Regions from separate parts of the Homo sapiens genome. Here region 1 is linked to region 2. The links come from fine-mapping of genetic effects on gene expression. Tissue or cell type: prefrontal cortex. Region 2 holds a variant in brackets; the other region holds the start of a gene. All regions are shown on one strand. Distances are between the middles of the regions.

Region 1 (4,383 bases), 42 kb before region 2:
CTATCACAGCCACGGAAGATGGGAGATGAAAGAATCTTTTAGCGCAGTCCTAACTTTATAAACCGAAGCTGAAGGTAACGGACCCGCCCAAGGCCACCCGCTAGTTACCAGGGACCTTGGTCGGGTTCACAGTGTATCCAACACCGGGGCCCCGGCCTGGCCCATGGCAGATGCCGGGGACCGCGGATCCGACGTATCTACGGTCCATTCCCGTTTCCACTCACCTTGCGCCGCCGCCGGTGCGGCTCGCCGACCGCACCTAGCAGTGTGTGCGAGCCCAGCAGGATGTGCGCACTCTGCGGCCACTGGCTGCGCACCAGGCGGTGCTCGCCCAGCAGGATGGTGCGCACGTTCTCCGCGCCGCTCACGCGGATCACTGGCCTGCCCAGCAGGTGCGTCTTGAACACTGTCCCATAGCGCTCTCGGCGAGAACTGTGGAAGCGCGAGCCCTGCGGGCGAGGCGGAGGGTGGAGAGCTGGAACTTCTGGGCCTGGGCTGGGATCTGACCCAGACCTTCCAGCTGCCTTTTGATCACAACTTCCTGTCCCTGGCTGGCGCGTTTACAAAACAAGATCCCCAGTGGGCCTGGTATCTACTCTACGGGAATGTACATGCTCCTGTTCCTATTGGTGAGATGAGGAAACAGACTCAGAGTGAAGAAGTGAGGGCCCAAGGGCTCACAGCTGGGCCAAGCTCCAGGCTCCTTTTCTACCCTTGCAGGACGTGCTCCTCAGACCCCTTCCTAAAACCCCTTATGTTTACCCCCTGCGTTGTGTCTGGGAGTTGCTCTGGGGGGAATTCCAGTGACTTGAGGTCCCTTCGAGGGAACGGAGTATCTAGGTAAAGGCGAGAGTTGTGCGCGCTTCCCGGGGTCGTGGGCGATGGGCAGGGACTGGCTACAAATCCCATGGGCATTGAGACTGAGGAGGGTCCAGTGGGAGCCGGGGGAAGAAGGGACCGTATTAGCGCTCGGGGTCGAAGGACTGCTCACCTGAACTAACCAGTGCAGCGTTTCGCCGAAGAAGGGCCACCCCATGGAGCCCTTGGGCAGAGGCAGGGTGGAGGCCCGGTCCCGGCTCAGCATCCAGCGGAGGGTCCAGAGGTGCTGGGCCAGGCTGAGCAGCAGGCCCGCGCACAGGAGAGCAGTGCCCGCCGCCCCCAGCACTGACAGGCAGCTCAGCCCCCAAGGGAACATGATGAGCCCGCGGGGGCCAGGCCGCTCAGAGCGCAGGGAGAGCAGGGGACGCAAGAACCGGGGCGCGAGCAGTGCGCAGTGCTCACCTGTTCCGTCCGCAAAAGGCCTGGGGTTTGGGGGCAAAGCCCGAGATTTATAAGCTCAGGCCAGAACTCTGTTCTAAAAACAGACGGACGGTGAAAGACTGCAGTGACCGTGCGCCCTTAGGGAACGTGCCTTCCTCGAGGCCGGCACGCTCAGGACTTTTTCCTGGCTCCTGGGCCCAAATGCCAGTCCCTCTCGAAGGTGCCTGCTGCCTCGGGAACGCTCACTCCCGGCTCCGCGGGGCACCTCCCACCTCCTCCCGGGCTCAGCACCCTTTGGATAGAAGAAGGGAAGGAGGGCGAAAGAAGAGCAACTCACCAGTGTTGCCAACCTGGTCTGCAGACCCCCGCCCCACCTGTCCCTCCTCCAGTCGTTTAACCCTTCTTGGCCCACGCTGGACACGTTTATATAGATATTGGCTCCCCCCCTACGGACCGATCCCGGTTCACACAACGTGACGTGTCTTTGCATATTTAAAGCGCTCCACGCAGAGTGGTGATTGGAGGCGGTGGGCAGCGGCGCGCTCACGGAGGGGCTCTGAGTAGGGAGTGGCAGGCGCCGGGGCGGCTCGAGCTGGGCTGGGGGCTCGCCCCGCGAGCGTCCTCGGGCGGGGCCTGCGGGTTCGCGCCAGAGCTTCCCCGCTCTTCGCAGGCGCTCAGAAAGTGGGCGAACCCAACGCGCAGAACTGACCCGGGCTTGCGCCCCGCAGTGCTCCTGGCCCACCCCCGGCCGCTGGCTCCCTCTGCCGTCCCCGCCCTCGAGCTTCTAGGTGCCTTTCTCTCGCCACTCCAAGGTGAAAGAACTGGGCTTTTCTCTCCTTTGCTCCGACTATTTCAGGGAAACTGCAGTCGTCGACGCCTGCGTTGGCATCGCAAAAGCCCAGGAGGGATAGCGCAGCCGAGATTCTCCGACAGCTCCCCACCTCTCCCGGCTCTCTGATCTACCACGTCAGGTATCCTTCCAAAGATGGCAGTTCCACTACTGCCCTAGGCTTCATAAAGACGTCCTAAGCCTCCAGAAGCGGATACCCACGAGCACCTTTCCGGTCTCAAGGACCGAATTCATCCTTCCCTGCACATCCTTCCCTCCCTCCCCCGAGTTTGCCCGACGACTCTTGTCAATCTACATTGTTGCGTTTTGGGCTTTGTGCGTCCCATTCAAGGGTTCCAAATGCCTCAGGACTCACTCGTTCTTGTCCCTACAGTGCAACCTGGGGTGTGTGTGGAGGGGTGCAGGGTGTTTATATTATTGGTAAGAGTAAAGAGGTCCCACAGTGGTCTCCTCCAGGCAGTGCAAAGGCAGTATCTCTCTGAATCCCGGGACGTCTCAGCCAAAGCAGGGAAGACACCCCAAGTACGCTGGAAGGCTGGGTAAGGCGCGAAGGGCAGCCCCATTCCAGTCTTCAAAGAGAGCTAGCTGTTCACCGCTCCTCTCCTCCAGATTTCACCGTGCCTGAAGAACTACCATGCTTTTCATGTAATATTTTTAAAAACATTAAATACTTTGGATTAAGAGATGATCGAGAGAACAAGTGCGCATATGTATATATATGTGTGTGTGTGTGTGTGTGTATGTATATATACTGTTTTGGTGCCACTCCCATTCCAGTAACTAGGAAATAATATGCCTTTTCTCCAGGAAGCACTTGTTTTAAATCAGTAAGCTCTGAATAGACAAAATAGTAATGCATTTTCAACAACTTGCTCAATATTTTTAATATTTCATCACAAAATCCAGAGATGTACATATAATTCTTTACACTTATTTTACAGAATCAGGCATAGTTTCTTACAGGCCTAAATCCTGAAAAGGCAAAGGGAAGATTCAGCATAAATACAACAAAGGGAGAATAAAGACTGGATTTATATTGCCATTTGGACCACGGAAACATACACAAAGGAAAATGTACATTTGTTTTAGGTTTTCCAGAGTTCATTTGGTTTGGCTTGTTTCCACAATGAGGATAAAGTACTGAAATCTGCTATTTGAAGAAAGTAACCTGACCCCTGTGGTAACTTCTGTGTGCAGGAACCATCTACCCTCGCACAAGCTGCACCTGAAGTGGTTAGCCCCATTTAGTTCCTGTCCTCTCTTTTAACTGGAACCAAACCAAACCAAACAAATCCAGAATGGGGTCACCTACAAGCAATATAGTTAGAAATATTAACCCTGATGAACAGAAACAACACTGCATCTTTAGAAAATCCAAAACCTTTTGTTCATATTCAGAACGATTAAATTAAACCACCCAAGTAGAACAAATAATTCACATTCTTACTGAGTTAAATCAAGTTTGATTTCAGGCAGCTTTTAAGATTTGTCTATTTCCCCTTCAGAATTAGCAGAATTAGAAATTTTGGTCTGCTTAAATCACATTGAGGTGAAAATAAAAGCTAAAAGTCAGAAAATGGTAGTGAAATACTACCATATCAGACATGATTGAATTCCAAAGCCATATACTGATCAAAAAACAGATTATCATTCAAGTCTAAATAGAAAAAAATACTTATGAGTAGAGGCATATGTTTTTCAAATGTATTTGTAATCAATTTCATGTATAATTTGTGACAATTTATGTATTACACTTTTGCATTTTCCCCTAAAAGTGAAAAAATGGTCATTTTTTTCCATATATAAAATAGTATTCGATTATTTAAAAATCCATACAAATGATATTTATTACTATTTCTTGTTTAAGCCCTCATGTATCTTCTCTATTGTATTTTTGGATTCTGTAAACAAATTACTGTATCATGACCAATACTTGCTCAAGATCAACATTGAATCATGGATTTGGTGTCACTGAGTGCAAGCCATGTGAGGTCTACATGTGCTGGGACATACCATTCACCAAACTTCTCAGCTGTTTCACGACTGTCTCTATCAACTTCTGTTTGTCTCGATCATTCTTCCTGAACTGAGCAAATATATTGTTCTTTTTGCTAGTATCCTTCATCCTAGAAACATATGTGAATGAAGAAGCTTGGTAAAAGAAAATTAAAAGCTAAGCTGTCACAAGTAAAATATCTTGGCATGCTCTGAATTATCCCACACTAATCCTATGCTTGAAAAATATAGTTCAAAGAAAGTAGATACTAAATAAA
Region 2 (4,397 bases):
CAGAGAGACCTCAGTGCTGCTTCTTCCGTTCAGCATGTCAAAGCACTGTATTTTAGAGTACTGGTTTCTGAGCCCCAACATTTCCCTGTCTAAAACTTCCCTAGAAGTTTCACATATTAAAAGCTGAGTTAGTGGCTGTGAAAAGACAAATCAAGTTAGTAACTCAATGGCAAAAGATCTCATCAAATCAGTCTCTTATTTTGGGGAATAGGCCAGTCCAATTAAACAGCTGTGTCTTATTTTAGAAGACAGCATTGCAGATGGGCCCTCGAAGCTAGGCCTCTATATGTAAGGTAGGCAAACATATTTTTAATAAGAGGCATCTCTACAGAAACAGAAGAAAAACAATGGTCCATGTCTGGAGTAGTCTATAAGCTAATTATTGGAGTCTCTGAAGCATCTTCAGGTTGCAGTGGCAATCTGACACATTTATTATTATTATTATTATTATGGTTTGAATCAGGTATTCAAGCAAACTTTTTGCACAGTCCATATATCTGTAGGCATAAAGGCTGTTAATATGTAAGTTGCTCTGGTGATTTTTGTTGAAGTTTATATTAAGTTCTAGCTTTAGGGCTTTAAGAAAAGCAGTTTTAATTTTTAGTGATTTTAAGTGAGAAAAATGTGAAAACATTAGTTTGGAGACTTGTAGCTAAAAAAGAATTTAGGATTTGTTCTAAATTGCAGGCAAATAATAAAAACTCAAAAATAATGGACAAGGCTAGAATCTAATACATGTATACTATGGTTTTTCCTTTAATATGTATTTTTTCTAGTCCCCCTTTTAAAAAAATCAAATACAAATTATACTAGGACCAATTTATTTGTAAAATAAATTTTAGTCTTACCATATTTGGCCTGATTATTTGTATAGTGCAGCAAGAATAGTGATTCACCATATGGACTTTTTAAAAACGGACTTCACTGGAACTTTTAATAAGGAATTTTGGATTAGACTTTTAAAAGCCTCAAGGGTAGGAAAGCAAGCTGAGCATTTGCCATCAGACTGTGCCTCTAATATCGGTATGAACTGGGTGAAATTTTCACTTTTCGAGGTCCTTGAAGTATCTTGAGGTTCTCAGGCCTGCCAGAAAGTGACATTTTTTACTTATCCCAAGGTCAGGAACCTTATAAGGGAACTGTGTGGATAGGGTACAGGGCCAGTCTCTTTTTTGTTTTTTTGTTTTTAAACTTTATTGGCTTTATAAAGTCAACCTCAATCCCTCAAAGCAGTCTGGTCATATATGAAAACATGACATTTTAGTCAAATCCTTGGTAAAATAACCAGTGTTTTCAATGTGTCCTGTTACAAAAGAAAAGATTCTTATGGAACTTATGTAAATAATTAGATTGTCATAAAACTAGAATATTTATGGATAGTTTCTAAATTCTGGAGAAATCATCTAGAGAGAAAAGTAAATGTTTTGATTTTGTTCATAAGTATATTTTAACTAATTGCTGTAAGTTATGAATAGCTTAGAAGAAAAAATTTTCTTGGCTCTGGAAAACAAAACATAGAAAGAATCAGCAATGTTTTAAATAAAAAGTCAACAAAAAATCATTTTGGGCCAAGTGTGGTGGCTCACGCCTGTAATCCCAGCACTTTGGGAGGCCGAGGCGGGTGGATTGCTTGAGCCCTGGAGTTCAAGATTAGCCTGGGCAACATGGTGAAACTCCATCTTTACCAAAAATACAAAAACTAGCCAGTCTCATAATCTGGTCTCAAAATAAATAAATCAATCAATAAATAAATACATAGATTAACATTTAAAAATAAAATAATAATAAATTATTTTAGTCCACCATCAGTTCAGTTCCATGTAATTCTTGTTTTGCTTGATGTTGGGTTAGCAATCTTTATGAATGTATCAGCTTTTTAATTAGAGTCCTGGAAGTTTTTTTACCTAGTCCAGTGGTATGATTTCCAAAGTCACCAGACACCTGTATGTAAGAGCATTTGTCAGGGTCTTTTATTTTTTTAATTTAATATTTTTATTTTTATTATGAAAAATTTCAAACATATATGAAAGTAAATAGCACAATAAACCCATCATCCTCACCTCCCAGATTCAGCTACTATCAATAATTTTTCTTTTTAAAGTATTTTAAAACAAACCACAGAATACATTTCCCTGCTTTCTCCCACTGATTTGTCTGAATTGGGATCAAAACAAGTTACACACATTATATTTGAGTTTTATGGCTCTGAAATATCTGGTAAAAAAAAAAAA[AG/G]TTCCTTTTTAAGATTTAAGAGGCAAACACTATCTGAAATACAAAGAAGGAATTGTGAGGACAGTATGCCAGCAATCATATTTTGGTAAGGGTAGGAGCATGGATGAGGAAAAAAATTAATGGAAAAAGACCAGCAGGAAATAAAACAGAATGCCAATAATGATGTGTTTGGGTAGAAAGACTATGAGTAAATTTTTCTACTTTTTTGTATATTCTAATGTTTTTTTGAAAACATGTATAACTTATGTACGTGTACTTTTTCATTTTACCTATAATATTTTATTATGCCTCTAGTAAGGCATTTAAAAAACATATTCACCATGTCATTATTATACCTTTTAAAAATAATTTAATACCAAATATCTAATATCCATATTTCCCTGATTATCTCAAACCTGCCCCCTCCCTTTTTTTTATAACTGGTTTGTTCAAATTAAGATGTAAACATGGTCTGTACATTGCTGTTGGTTATGAGGTCTTATTTAATCTTTACATATAGGGGGGTGTGATTTATGTCAAAGATGGTTATGTGATGGTCTGCATAAAGAATGTATTTCTTTTTTAAAATTTTTATTTTTATTTTATTTCTTTTTTTTTTTTTTTGAGACAGAGTTTCACTCTTGTTGCCCAAGCTGGAGTGCAATGGCACAATCTCGGCTCACTGCAACCTCTGCCTCCCAAGTTCAAGTGATTCCCCTGCCTCAGACTCCTGAGTAACTGGGATTACAGGTGTGCACCACCACGCCCAGCTAATTTTTGCATTTTTAGTAGAGACGGGGTTTCACTGTGTTAGCCAGGACGGTCTCGACCTTCTGACCTCATGATCCGCCCACCTCAGCCTCCCAAAGTGCTGGGATTACAGGCATGAGCCACCACGCCCAGCCTTTTATTTTATTTCAATAGCTTTTGAAATATAAGTGGTTTTGGTTACATGGATGAATCGTATAGTGGTGAAGTCTGAGATTTTAGTGTATTCATCATCCAAGTAGTATACATTGTACCCAATATGTAGTGTTTGTTTGTTTGAGACAGAGTCTTGCTCTGTCGCCAGGCTGGGGTGCAATGGCATGATCTTGGCTCACTGCAACCTCCATCTCCCCAGGTTCAAGCGATTCCCCTGCCGCAGCCCCCCAAGTAGCTGGGATTACAGGAACCTGCCACCATGCCTGGTTAATTTTTTGTATTTTAGAAGAGACAGGGTTTCACCGTGTTGGCCAGGATGGTTTCTATCTCCTGACCTCATGATCCACCCGCCTCAGCCTTCCAAAGTGCTGGGATTACAGGTGTGAGCCACCGTGCCCAGCCCCCAATATGTAGTTTTTATCTCTCATCCCTTCTCCCACCCTCCCCCTTTTGAGTCTCTGGAGTCCATTATATAACTCTGTATGCCAAGAAGCAAATTTTGGACTGTAGCCAATTGTAAACTGCTTTTTGAGGAGAATCAAGAAAAACAATTAATATTCTGTAGATGACAAAAGACTTAGAATAGCCATGGTTAGGCTGAGTGCAGTGGCTCACACCTGTAATCCCAACACTTTGGGAGGCCAAGGCAAGTGAATCACCTGAGGTCAGGAGTTTGAGACCAGCCTGGCCAACCCGGCGAAACCCCACCTCTACTAAAAATACAAAAAAAATTAGCTGGGCTTGGTGGCACACGCCTGTAGTCCCAGCTACTTGGGAGGCTGAGGCAGGAGAATTGCTTGAACCCAGGAGGCGGAGTTTGCAGTGAGCCAAGATCGCGCCACTGCACTCCAGCTTTGGTGACAAGAGCGAGACGCCATCTCAAAAAAAAAAAAAGAAAATAGCCATGGTAAAAGACACCAATTGACAAGGGAATTTTGTTATTTTTGTGACATATAATAACATAATAATTATGACTGATAACATATATCAAGACATCAGAATTTCAGGAATCCAATATAATTTTGGAACACATGAATATTTGTATAAATATAATTCAAAGCAAGTTAAATACCATTTCTTATTTGACAATGTTTCTCACATGATTTTCTTATATCGAATAAGCCCTAATATGTCTCTCTTGAGCTTCCAGGGGCCCTTTCCGGAATATCCAAAAGTTTGAGTTCAAAAAGACAATTTTAGAATCTGAAATTTGGGGAAGTATGTCAAATATCAAAGGTTTAAAACACTTGATTAAAATAGGA

Alleles and levels. Positions count from the first base shown, and alleles are read on the strand shown. Sizes are in standard deviations (SD) of each study's normalised expression.
As copies of G replace AG in region 2, the expression in prefrontal cortex of the gene that starts at base 1,661 in region 1 goes down (moderate effect, 0.63 SD a copy in CommonMind).

The links. PIP is the estimated chance that this variant, and not a neighbour inherited with it, causes the effect. A credible set is the group of variants that fine-mapping cannot tell apart.
Region 1: CYP26C1 starts here. The variant in region 2 is the best candidate, but not a certain one, in a credible set for the expression of CYP26C1 in prefrontal cortex (CommonMind, PIP 0.51).

The regions. Positions count from the first base shown.
Region 1 is chr10:93,058,076-93,062,458 of GRCh38, reverse strand. CYP26C1 (cytochrome P450 family 26 subfamily C member 1) reads right to left here and starts at 1,661. Exons shown (of 6, transcript NM_183374.3): 1 at 992-1,661; 2 at 225-449. The coding sequence starts at 1,195. EXOC6 (exocyst complex component 6) reads right to left here. Exons shown (of 22, transcript NM_019053.6): 22 at 2,969-4,236. The coding sequence ends at 4,104. RefSeq lists an enhancer at 734-1,643.
Region 2 is chr10:93,016,449-93,020,845 of GRCh38, reverse strand. All of the region lies in intron 20 of EXOC6 (exocyst complex component 6), which reads right to left. Among named protein-coding and RNA genes, the nearest start is that of CYP26C1, 42 kb to the left of the region's middle. The variant AG/G (reference allele first, on the strand shown) is at 2,232.